3 linked regions of the Homo sapiens genome follow. The protein of the gene in region 1 interacts with the protein of each later gene in a biochemical or structural test. Each region holds a gene or a part of one and is shown in the gene's direction. Other genes may lie near its edges.

Region 1 (3,655 bases):
CCTTGTGCAAAGACAAGTCTTCTATGAGGACACAAGCTCCCCTTGCTATTGATCCTTGTAGCCAAGGATAACGGTTTCAAAACAACTTCTGTAACCTCCTCACTTTGCCTTTAAGCTTTCCTGAATCCCAGCCTCTTTGGATATCCCTATAATCTCTTATAGCACATATGTCCCAGCTTGCAATTGCCTACATAGTCCCAAATAAACTTTGGGAGAGCCTCTCTCTGTCATTGTATTAGGCTGACACTCCCTAACCCAACATATTGGACTGTTCATTCCACACTGTTTCCTGCACAGAGAGCCAGCAGGTGCCCTTTCCTCTGCAGGTGGAAACACATCAGCCCATGACCGACATGTGAACACAGGTGAGGAGTGCAGCGAGGGATCCATACAGGGTGTCCCCAGCTTAGAACTCAACACAAGTATTTTGTTCAAACAAAATGTCAAAATGTGATTTCAATCAGCTCTAGTTAAAAATTCATAATTCAAGATAGCCTTGCTGGTAATACTTGGTTAGAAAATTAACCAGACCAGAGATATCATGACTCAGCTTTTGGCTGAATTGAAGATGTTCAGTGAAATGCCCACAGGATGCTTGTTTATTCAGTATCTGGATCATGACATAATGGATTGAGTATTGTTTCATAAGCTTTAATTTCATTCCTGGCTTTCAGTACTACTCATTGAGTTTTAGTGTGGAATTTAGTGGTGTGACCGATTTCACTGCTAGCTAGTAATTTCTTTTATTTTCTTTTTTTTTGAGACAGAGTTTCACTCTTGTTGCCCAGGCTGGAGTGCAATGGCACAATCTCGGCTCACTGCAACTTCCGCCTCCCGGGTTCAAGTGATTCTTGTGCCTCAGCCTCCCAAGTAGCTGTGATTACAGGCACCTGCCACCATGCCCAGTTAATTTTTAGTATTTTTTTTTTTTTTTGGTAGGGACAGCATTTCACCATGTTGGCCAGGCTGGTGTCAAACTCCTAACTTCAGGTGATCCATCTACCTCGGCCTCCCAAAGTGCTGGGATTACAGGCGTGATCCACCATACCCAGCCATTGCTAGTACTTTCAAAGATTATGCAGTGTAACTTCAACTTATGGTACCAAAAACTATTGATGTTGTTTTGAATATGTGCATTATTACTGGTAGCTGTTTGGCTTCTTATTTCTGTGCATTGTGCTATTATTGGATACATCTTGGGAACTTGTAAAGCAATTTTCAGTTTCTATGTATAAAACCAAAACCCTGGCCGGGCGCGGTGGCTCACGCCTGTAATCCCAGCACTTTGGGAGGCCGGTGCTGGCAGATCACGAGGTCAGGAAATCGAGACCATCCTGGCTAACACATGAAACCCTGTCTCCACTAAAAATACAAAAAAAAATTAGCCAGGCATGGTGGTGGGCGCCTGTAGTCCCAGCTACTTGGGAGGCCGAGATGGGCGGATCACGAGGTCAGGAGGTTGAGACCATCCTGGCTAACATGGTGAAACACCATCTCTACTAAAAATACCAAAAAAAAAAAAAAAAAAAAAAATTAGCTGGGTGTGGTCACAGGCACCTATAGTCCCAGCTACTCAGGAGGCTGAGGCAGGAGAATGGCGTGAACCCAGGAGGCGGAGCTTGCAGTGAGTGGAGGTTGTGCCACTGCACTCCAGCCTGGGCGACAGAGTGAGATTCCGTCTCAAAAAAAATAAAATTAACCCAAAACCCTGAAGCATGAATGATATGGTCATTATGGCTCTTTTTCTCCAAAAGTCCCTTTAAAGCTCAGTAATTGCTATTTGGAAACACATACATACATTGAATTACAATATGTGCTAAGTTTGCAAGAACCTTGTGTTTCTTCTAGAAAGCTACTTGGTTTTTTTTTTTTCCTCTAACAGGGATAAGTCAAAATGAATAAAAGATTTTGAGTACAGTCTCACGCTTTGGGTATGATTGGCGAATCCAGCTTGAATTAAAGTTTAACACAAGGGCTGGGCAGGCCCTGGGTTCCACTCATGACCAGAGTGAGGGATGCTGGTTACCAAGTGTAATGACGCTTTATGAAACTACCTAAAGACTATGAAGCTTTGGCAGGAGAATACACCTCAACATCTTGAACATTTTGCTCATCACAATTTGAAATGATCAAAATAATTAGTGTTGTAGCTGTCAATGTTAAGAGTCATTCACATGCATAGGAAGGAACTTAATTCAAATTGGAATAAAGGAAAGATGAAGCCTTTGGTTGCAGTCACTAGGAGGTTGGGGGCAGCTCCCAGCATGTTGGTACCCAATGTCCCCCAGTGTTCTTTGTGTATCCCTGCATGGGGTGTTCCTCTGTGTTGAAGTCCTCTTCCGGCAGGCTGGCTCGCTGGCTCTCCACTTGGCATTAGTGGTATTAGAACAAGCTTCAGGTATTCACTTCTCACAGCTGGTCACACCAATGTAGGCATCTTGGCCTCCCTCTCCCTGTCATCTGTACCAAGCTGCCACTGGGCTCTGGCTGGTCCAGCTGGGTCCTGTACCTATTGCAAGAGAGAAGCAGTTTCTAAAAGAAAGGCATGCAGAGAGGACCAGGGAGAGGCCGAGGGGACTTCATGCTGTCAGGGAAGTTTGAAGTCATTTTTGAGATGTCACGTCTTTGAGTTATAAAGAAAAGCAGCTCCGAAAAGCTGAGATGGATGTTATTGGGGAGGGAGGGCTTTACCCGGTGATGTGTGACCTCCAATCCTGCCTGGGGCCCCATTCTCCACCCCCTCATTCTGCCATGGAATGAAAATGACCAAGATCCTGCCTTTCGAGAGCTTAAAGGAGCATGTCTGTGGAACTGACAGGCCTTAGCGTTGCTCTTCTTCTTGAAAATGATTTATCTTTCTTTCTGGTGTCATCTCAGCAGTTTAGAATATGCTAGAATTTTGGTGAGATTTAGAAAATAGGATGTCAATCAATTAGCAGTCACCTCAAAATAAATTTTATTTTCTTCATTTTATTGAATTTTGTTATGCAAACAAAGAAGAAAGACAACATTAGAAGAATGCACTTAGACCTTCTTTTCTACCAATAGAATGGGGGTGGCAGGACGGCAAGATTCGTATTTTACCATCAAAAACAGGAAGATGATTTTTCCCCAGTAACTGAATAACTTCTAAAAACAGTTTCTTTAACTTCTGTGTCAGCTTTGGGGTTCACTGTGGACTTTTCTGTTGATTTGACACAGGGACTTTATGTGGGGCAGTTTGTGGAGAGAAGATGAACCTTTTGTGGGTCATTTTTGCTTTTACAGGACATTTAGTGTCTGTAACATGCGGAGGTAAGGATCCAGGAGTTTGTTTCAGTTTTTTTATTGGGAGGGGGTAGGGGTATAACCGTCTCTCTAGGAAACTCTCCCTGGGGCACCCTTTCCTGCTCTCCCGTAGCCATGGGGACAGGGTGGGTGAACAAGGCCCCTCCTCGCTTCCCGCCGTGCTGTGCACACTGCCTATTCTGCGCCACACAGCAGGCGCTGTTCCTCCCAAGCGTGGCCTTGGCATGAAGCCCACACGCACCCACACAGCAGGCGCTGTTCCTCCCAAGCGTGGCCTTGGCATGAAGCCCACATGCACCCACACAGCAGGCACTGTTCCTCCCAAGGGCGGCCTTGGCATGAAGCCCACACGCACCCATACAAAAGG
Region 2 (3,213 bases), on another chromosome or scaffold:
GGGGGGATGCAGGGAGGGATGTGAGTGTGTATGTGTATGGGTGTGTGGGTGTGTGGGTGTGTGTGTGGGTGTCAGGGGATGTGGGTGTGTATGGGTGTGTGGTGGGGGTATGTGTGTGGGGGTGGGAGGGTGTGTGTGGGGTGTGGGTGTGTGTGGGGGTGTGGGTGTGTGTATGGGTGTGTGGGTGTGGGTGTGTGTGGGGGGTGGGCGTATGTGGGTGTGTGTGGGGGTGTGTGTGGGGGTGTGGGGGTGTGTGTGTGTGTGGGTGTGTGTGTATGGGTGTGTGTGGGGGTGTGTGGGGGGTGTGGGGGTGTGTGGTGTGGGTGTGTGTGGGTGTGTGTGTGTATGTGAAATTGAGAGTGCATGTTTTGCCTTTCTTCCTCCTTAGCTTACAGAATTGGGCAATTGCAATCTGTCTTCTGTCAGGACCTCACCAATGTACATAGGTCAGTCAAAGATGTTTCTAATTGATTCTTTATTGACATACCTTAGCGCTCCTCCAATTAACTGGAGAATTCCTATGATTGTTGAGGCTTGCTCTTCATAGACATCTTCTCAGCCTTGCCACAGCCCCATTGGTTCCAGTTGCATATGGCAGCCCTTCATGATATTTTACCATTCAGGCTCTCCTGATTTCACAAAGATTTAGCTTATTTTTTATTAATGAATATCTTTGATGTTCAGAGTGGTTTCTGAAAGGAAAAGGAGAGGAAATTCATTACTCCATTATATTAAAAGCAGAAGTCCTTTCTAAGTCTCCATTACTCTTTGACAATATGCATGCCAATTATGTACACCAAAATTAGACTGGCTTTAAAAATGATGAACTTGAGGCCTTGAGAGTTACTGTGATTGAATTAGGGCCATACACATCAGTAAAAATGAACTGACAGGGTCTTGAGCCTGAATTCAACACATCAGATGGTATCTTAGGAATGCAATGTCAATCAAAGCCCAGTTGCTCTCCTTTGTCCACGTGCGGGAGCTTGTATTGCTCTGTTGATTTTAGTAAAATCTAGCTCTGTTACGGTGGCTTTACTGATGAGTTAGAGTTTAAATATGAACTTAGTTTCAACCTACATTAGAGGAACTATAATGGAGCAAACTCAAGAGAAGAAGGAAAAGAGGGACAAGGTTTCCCATACTCACTGACCTGATACTCTTCTTGCCGCAAACGTGAACGCTTATGGCATTGTCTCCCTTAAGCTTCACAGTCCTTCTGAACTGCTGTTATTATCCCCTTTTGACACATGAAAATGCTAAAGTACAAGAAGCTGAGTAACTTTTTTTTTTTTTTTTTTTTTTGAGACAGTCTCTCACTCTGTCACCCAGGCTGGAGTGTAGTGTTGCAGTCTCGGCTCACTGCAATCTCTGCCTCCTGGGTTCAAGTGATTCTCCTGCCTCAGCCTCCCGAGTAGCTGGGACTACAAGCGTGCACCACCATGCCTGGCTAATTTTTGTATTTTTCGTAGAGATGGGGTTTCACCATGTTGGCCAGGCTGGTCTCAAACTCCTGACCTCAAGTGATCCACCTGCCTTGGCCTCCCAAACTGCTGAGATTACAGGTGTGAGCCACCACGCCCAGCCTGAGTAAGTTTTCAAAGCCACCAGTTCAAAAGTGTTCATACTCCATCTTCTATGATCTTTCAGTTCTACCTTTCTGCCTCCCAGGTTACCATATTCATTCAGTTGAAATTGTCTCAGCCACAGCTTTGGGATTCTGTAAAGATAAAAGATGCACCAGAGGGATTCCTAAATGCTTTGTCTTCATCCTTCGAGCTGGGCGATACCTCCACGTTCTGTGTGCTTAGGGGCCACTTCTCTGAGCAGCATTCATCATGACACCCAACACTAATGCAGCAGGTTTTCAACCTGTAGTTTGTAGCCATTAATCAGTTCCTGTGACGTAAGCTATTGTTATCTCATGTTACAGATGAGGCAGCTGGTAGAGAGAGTGGTTAGGTAATTTTTCCAGAATCAGCAGTGAATCCAGGAGAGAGCTGAGACTGGACCTGTCTATCCCAGACATAGCTTACAACATGAGGGCTTTGCTAAAAGTAGTTCAGTAATCTCAACTCCCTTCATCACCTGCACTGTAAAAAAGATGTTTCATCTCACCTGTGCTGTTACCCATAGTGTGTTATAAAACCTGGTAGCAGAAGAGAAAAAGAAAGGTCAAATCAAAGAATATATACACAGGAAGTTTGTTTTTGACTAAGTATTTCAGACCATGAAGCTAAGACCATTTGGGTTTAAAGTTGCTAATAACAACACTTTCTTTATATATATTTAAAAAAATACATCAAGAGGGTTACACAGAAGGAAGCAGCCTATTTGGGGAAGGCTATCAAGCAGTAGAAAGTGATGTGAATGTCTATTTGTTCTTTTGGCTGTTTTTAGTTTCACTACAGAATAGCCTTTTTGGAGTACATAAATCTATAACCACACAAAATATGGCTAGCTTAAAAAAGTGGGAGAGGGAGATGATATGAAATTATCCCCTGAAAAGTCTTACTTTTGAACACTTGCATTATAATGGAAATAGCCTCAGATTTCTTCTGGTGGCATTCCAGCATTATTGGACAATTTATTTTCTCCTTAAGTGACATTTTAGTACATTGTGTGTTATATGTAATGATATTTCTGGAGTAACAAGTGTGCAAGAAGTGAGAGAAAAAGAAAGTACACTTAATATGTAGGCAGGTGTCTCAGCACTTTCTTTTTTGTACGTGAATCCCATTATCTCCAGTGATAACTTTGTTGACAGCACCCACCAATATATTCAGAGCAAGGTTTTATAAAATAGATCCAGAATCGTATGACTAAGAGACCCAGGTGACACGTGTCAGCCTCAGATAGTTGCTACATTTTCTGTTTTAAAGATTCAAACAAAACTTTTCACATTCTTCTTTGGGGAAAAAAAATTACATTTGAAGTCCTTTTTCACCCAAACACGTTTTGAGATAAGAGCTCACAAGTCTTGACATTATTTCATTTTGTTATGCGCATCTGTCAAGGAACCAAGATACGATACAGCTACTAAAAACTGATGATTGTGGAACAGAGAAACTTGACAGCATTTCATTTCCTTTATGTTCTGATTATACGTTTATCAGAAAACCTGTATCTCTTCTAGTTCAGCTAGAAATTGGTAGAATTCAGGAACTCAAAGGCTTGGCAAAGAACTGTCCTATTATTTGGTATCATCTTACA
Region 3 (3,655 bases), on another chromosome or scaffold:
TGCCACTAAAGTGTCCCTCAAGCTTAAAGAAGTATGAATCTGAGATTCCAAGATTCCAGTATGATAGAAAGTCAGGGCTTCTGTTGCACTGAGATAAGAATGTGAAAAGAGGGGCAGGGAGTTGAACTATGTGGGTGAGGACGGGAACAGTGTGTATTGTGGGGAAAAGGCTGGATTCGGGGGTGGTCTGGTCAGGAGGCTGACATCTTTATCCTAGTTTGTAACTATAGTTTGCTGGGTGACCTTGGGCAAGGCTCTTTCCATCTTTGGGTCTCGGTTTCCCTGTGTGTGAAATGAGATTCAATGTGATGACCTTAAGAGTTTCCCATTCCTGAAATTCTGACTCTGGGTCTATTGCCAAAGCAAAAGCCTCTGGGCCCTTGCCCCCAAAATCTTTGGATTCTAAAATGGCTAAGGGCCTGGATAAATGGAGGGAAAACCCAGAGAAGGTATAGAGAAGCTGCAGGGGCTGGCATTCCTAGAAATTAAGCAATGTTGGCCCAGCACATTTGCTTACCACGTGAGATGTTCCCACAGATGTTCTGAGTGGTGGGGCCTGGGGTAATGAAGAGGGAGATGTGTGATTGAGTCCTCCAGAATCACACCTGGGAGGCTAGGCAGTCACTCACCTCCTGATCCCATTTCCTCAATTCTGAATAAAATAATTATAATCATGAAGATATTTTTCAACCTCTTAGACTTGTAAAATCCTGAATTAAAAATTCAAATGCTTTGAGGACCCAGGCAGGTAACAGACCATAAGACCATAAGATACAAGGGGTGTCAGACAAGAGGACATTCAGGGGCAAGTAGTGTCCGAGGAAAAGGGAAGCTCCAGCTGATCATGCCATGAGAAATCGTGGACCCAGTCTTGATTTCTCAAGAGAAATGGGAAATTGGGATTTTTCCGTGAACTCTCCAAAATTTAACTACTAATTAAAATGTTTAAAAATAGTGTCAACCAAAGGAAACATATTTATTAGCCTGTCTTCTTTGTAACCTCTGGTTTAGCTCTTCAAATTGATAAGGTCTTTTCACACAGAAGATTTTATTACTAATTTAAACATAAAATGAAGCTCTGAAGAGAGAGAGGAGGAGAAAGCATACACAGACACTGCACACCTACCGTGTCCCCACAGGCCCTGTGTGAGTGTTTCAGGCATGTGATCTCATGTTACTCTGAAACCCTCCCCCCTGGTGACTATTGATATACCCATTTATCAGATAAGGAACCTTGTCCAAAAGTCACCCACTGAGGAAGTGAGGAAAGGTGATCAGTCCCAAACCTAGCTCTATCTTTTACACCACACACTGGCTACTTTGGGACATGCCAGAACAATATCTTTGTGCACAGAGAGATTGAACTCTGAGGGAACAGCAAACAGATCCTCTGGCGGGGCACGAAGCTGGCTGTGGCCTGGACACCAACCTGCAACTTCATCCCTCCCTTCCCTTTAAACTCTCTGAGCTGTTAAACTGCCCAGGGTTCTTAAGCTAATTAAAGTCCTAACCCTGTCCCCTCTGACCCTGTAGGCAGCAGAGCAGTAAGCCATGAATCCTGCTTTTCCTAATCTTGAGCTCAGTGGGCCCCAGCTTCACCCAGATAAGCATGGTTTGCTAAGCCAATTAGTGGGAGACGATCTGACATGGGATTCCTGCCAGGCTTTCGGGATCTGGGAACCCCAAAATGGGGAGAAAATTAGGCAATTGGGATTTAGGGGCCCTCCCTCTAATGCCCTCTCTATGCATAGGCCCAGACACTGCACTCTATGTCACCTAAGAAGCCCTGCATGACAGAGAAGTTCTGGAATGAGTTAGTGACCTATTGGAAGGAAATGTCAGGCTCTGGATTTCCCCTCTGGGAAACTACATTCTTGGCATAACGGTTGAGAGGGTTGAGAGCACGGACTCTAGATTCAAGTGTCCTCAGTTTAAATCCAGACTTTACTACTTCTTATATGTGACCTTGACAAGGCAAATAATCTCTCATCCGTTGTAAACTAGGGACCAAAATTGTACCCACCCGCCTCTTAGGTTGTTTCAAGGTTTAATGAGATAATGTGTAAGGGTTCAGCAAAGGGCTCATTCCATCGTTAAATGCTCAGAAACTGCTGGCAATGATTAGTGCATTAGCTTGGGCTTTGCTCCCTGTGGAACAAAGCTTTGTTCACGGAGCACATGGCAGGACAGCAAGGGGGTCCTGAAGTCCCTTGAAGCCATAATGACATGGCAGTCATTCATTTAATCTGCAGTCATTCATTCAGCAGACATTTATTAAGCACCTGCTGTATACCAGGCACTGTTCTAAGTGCTGGGAATAGAGTGGTGAACAAGACAAAGTCCTTGCCCTCTTGGAGCTCAATAGCCTAATGAAGGAACCAATAAGAAAATAAACTATGATATATATTATATGGGATATATAATACCTGGGCCAGATCGTGATAAGTGCTATGGGGAAAAAAATGAAACAGGGCAGGGAGCTACTGGAGTGCCAGGGAGAGGTGTGGCTCTTTGAGATAGGGTGGTCAGGGTGGACCTCTCCAAGGAGGTGGCATGTGGGCAAAGGGCTGCACGAGGTGAGGACAAGCTGTGTAGAGGTCTTGGGGAGGGTTTTGCAGGCAAAGGAAAAGGGAAGGGCAAGGAGAAGGCCTGTGTGGCAGAAATAGAGTGAGGGGAGCATGTTTGGAGATGCTGGTGGACAGATTGGCAGGGGCGAGGTCATGCAGGGCCTCAGAGGCCATGGCAAGGACTAGGGCTTTTACTCTTCATGACACGGGGAGCCCAGGATAATTTGGCCAGAGAAGGAACATGATCTTGACTTGTGTTTTGCAATGTCCACTCTGGCTGCTGGGTGGGGAATAGACTGGAGGGGCCGGGCACAGTGGCTCACGCTTGTAATCCCAGCACTTTGGGAGGCCGAGGCAGGCGGATCACGAGGTCAAGAGATCGAGACCATCCTGGCCAACATGGTGAAAGCCGGTCTCTACTAAAAATACAAAAATTAGCTGGGCATGGTGGTGCGCACCTGTAATCCCAGCTACTCGGGAGGCGGAGGCAGGAGAATCGCTTGAACCTGGCAGGTGGAGGTTGCAGTGAGCCGAGAGTGAGCCACTGCACTCCAGCCTGGGTGACAGAGCAAGACTCCATCTCAAGAGAAAAAGCATAAAAAAGAGAGAGAATAGACTGGAGGGAGGCAGAGTAAGCCTGGAGATGCATGAGGAGGCTGCTACAAAGATGCAGGAGAGAGACAATGGAGACTGGATCAAACTGTAGCAACAGGGATGGGGGTCTGCTTCAGGCTGAGCTAATGCGACCTCTTTCCTTCTTTGGTCCTCAGTCTCTCCACTGGGGCCAGAGTTAATGGTTCAGCATCCACTCTCTGGAATCAGCCATATCCTGCACCTGCCACTTTCTGTGATTTGGGGCAAGTGGCATGACTTGTCTGTGCCTTGATTTTCTCATCTGCTAAATGGACACTCTAATAATAGCACCTATCGCATGGTGCTTGAGGTAGTAGAAAATTAAATAATGTTTAGTGTTCAGCACAGTGCCTGGAACATAGGAAGTTCTCAACAATGATAATTAGACATTGTTATTTGTAAAACAGGTCAGGGGTTGGATTCCATCATTTTCAAACTGTGTTTTATAGCCCTGT

What was found.
Region 2: the proteins of SNTG2 (region 1) and ABCC4 interact in a test that uses a peptide from one of them, tested with the Homo sapiens proteins (one large-scale study listed by IntAct).
Region 3: the proteins of SNTG2 (region 1) and XKR7 interact in a test that uses a peptide from one of them, tested with the Homo sapiens proteins (one large-scale study listed by IntAct).

What each region holds. Positions count from the first base shown.
Region 1 is NC_000002.12:1,363,228-1,366,882, forward strand, and holds part of SNTG2 (gamma-2-syntrophin), read left to right. Parts: intron 1-3,655. UniProt on the Homo sapiens protein: Adapter protein that binds to and probably organizes the subcellular localization of a variety of proteins. May link various receptors to the actin cytoskeleton and the dystrophin glycoprotein complex.
Region 2 is NC_000013.11:95,022,299-95,025,511, reverse strand, and holds part of ABCC4 (ATP-binding cassette sub-family C member 4), read left to right. Parts: intron 1-3,213. UniProt on the Homo sapiens protein: ATP-dependent transporter of the ATP-binding cassette (ABC) family that actively extrudes physiological compounds and xenobiotics from cells.
Region 3 is NC_000020.11:31,971,043-31,974,697, forward strand, and holds part of XKR7 (XK-related protein 7), read left to right. Parts: intron 1-3,655.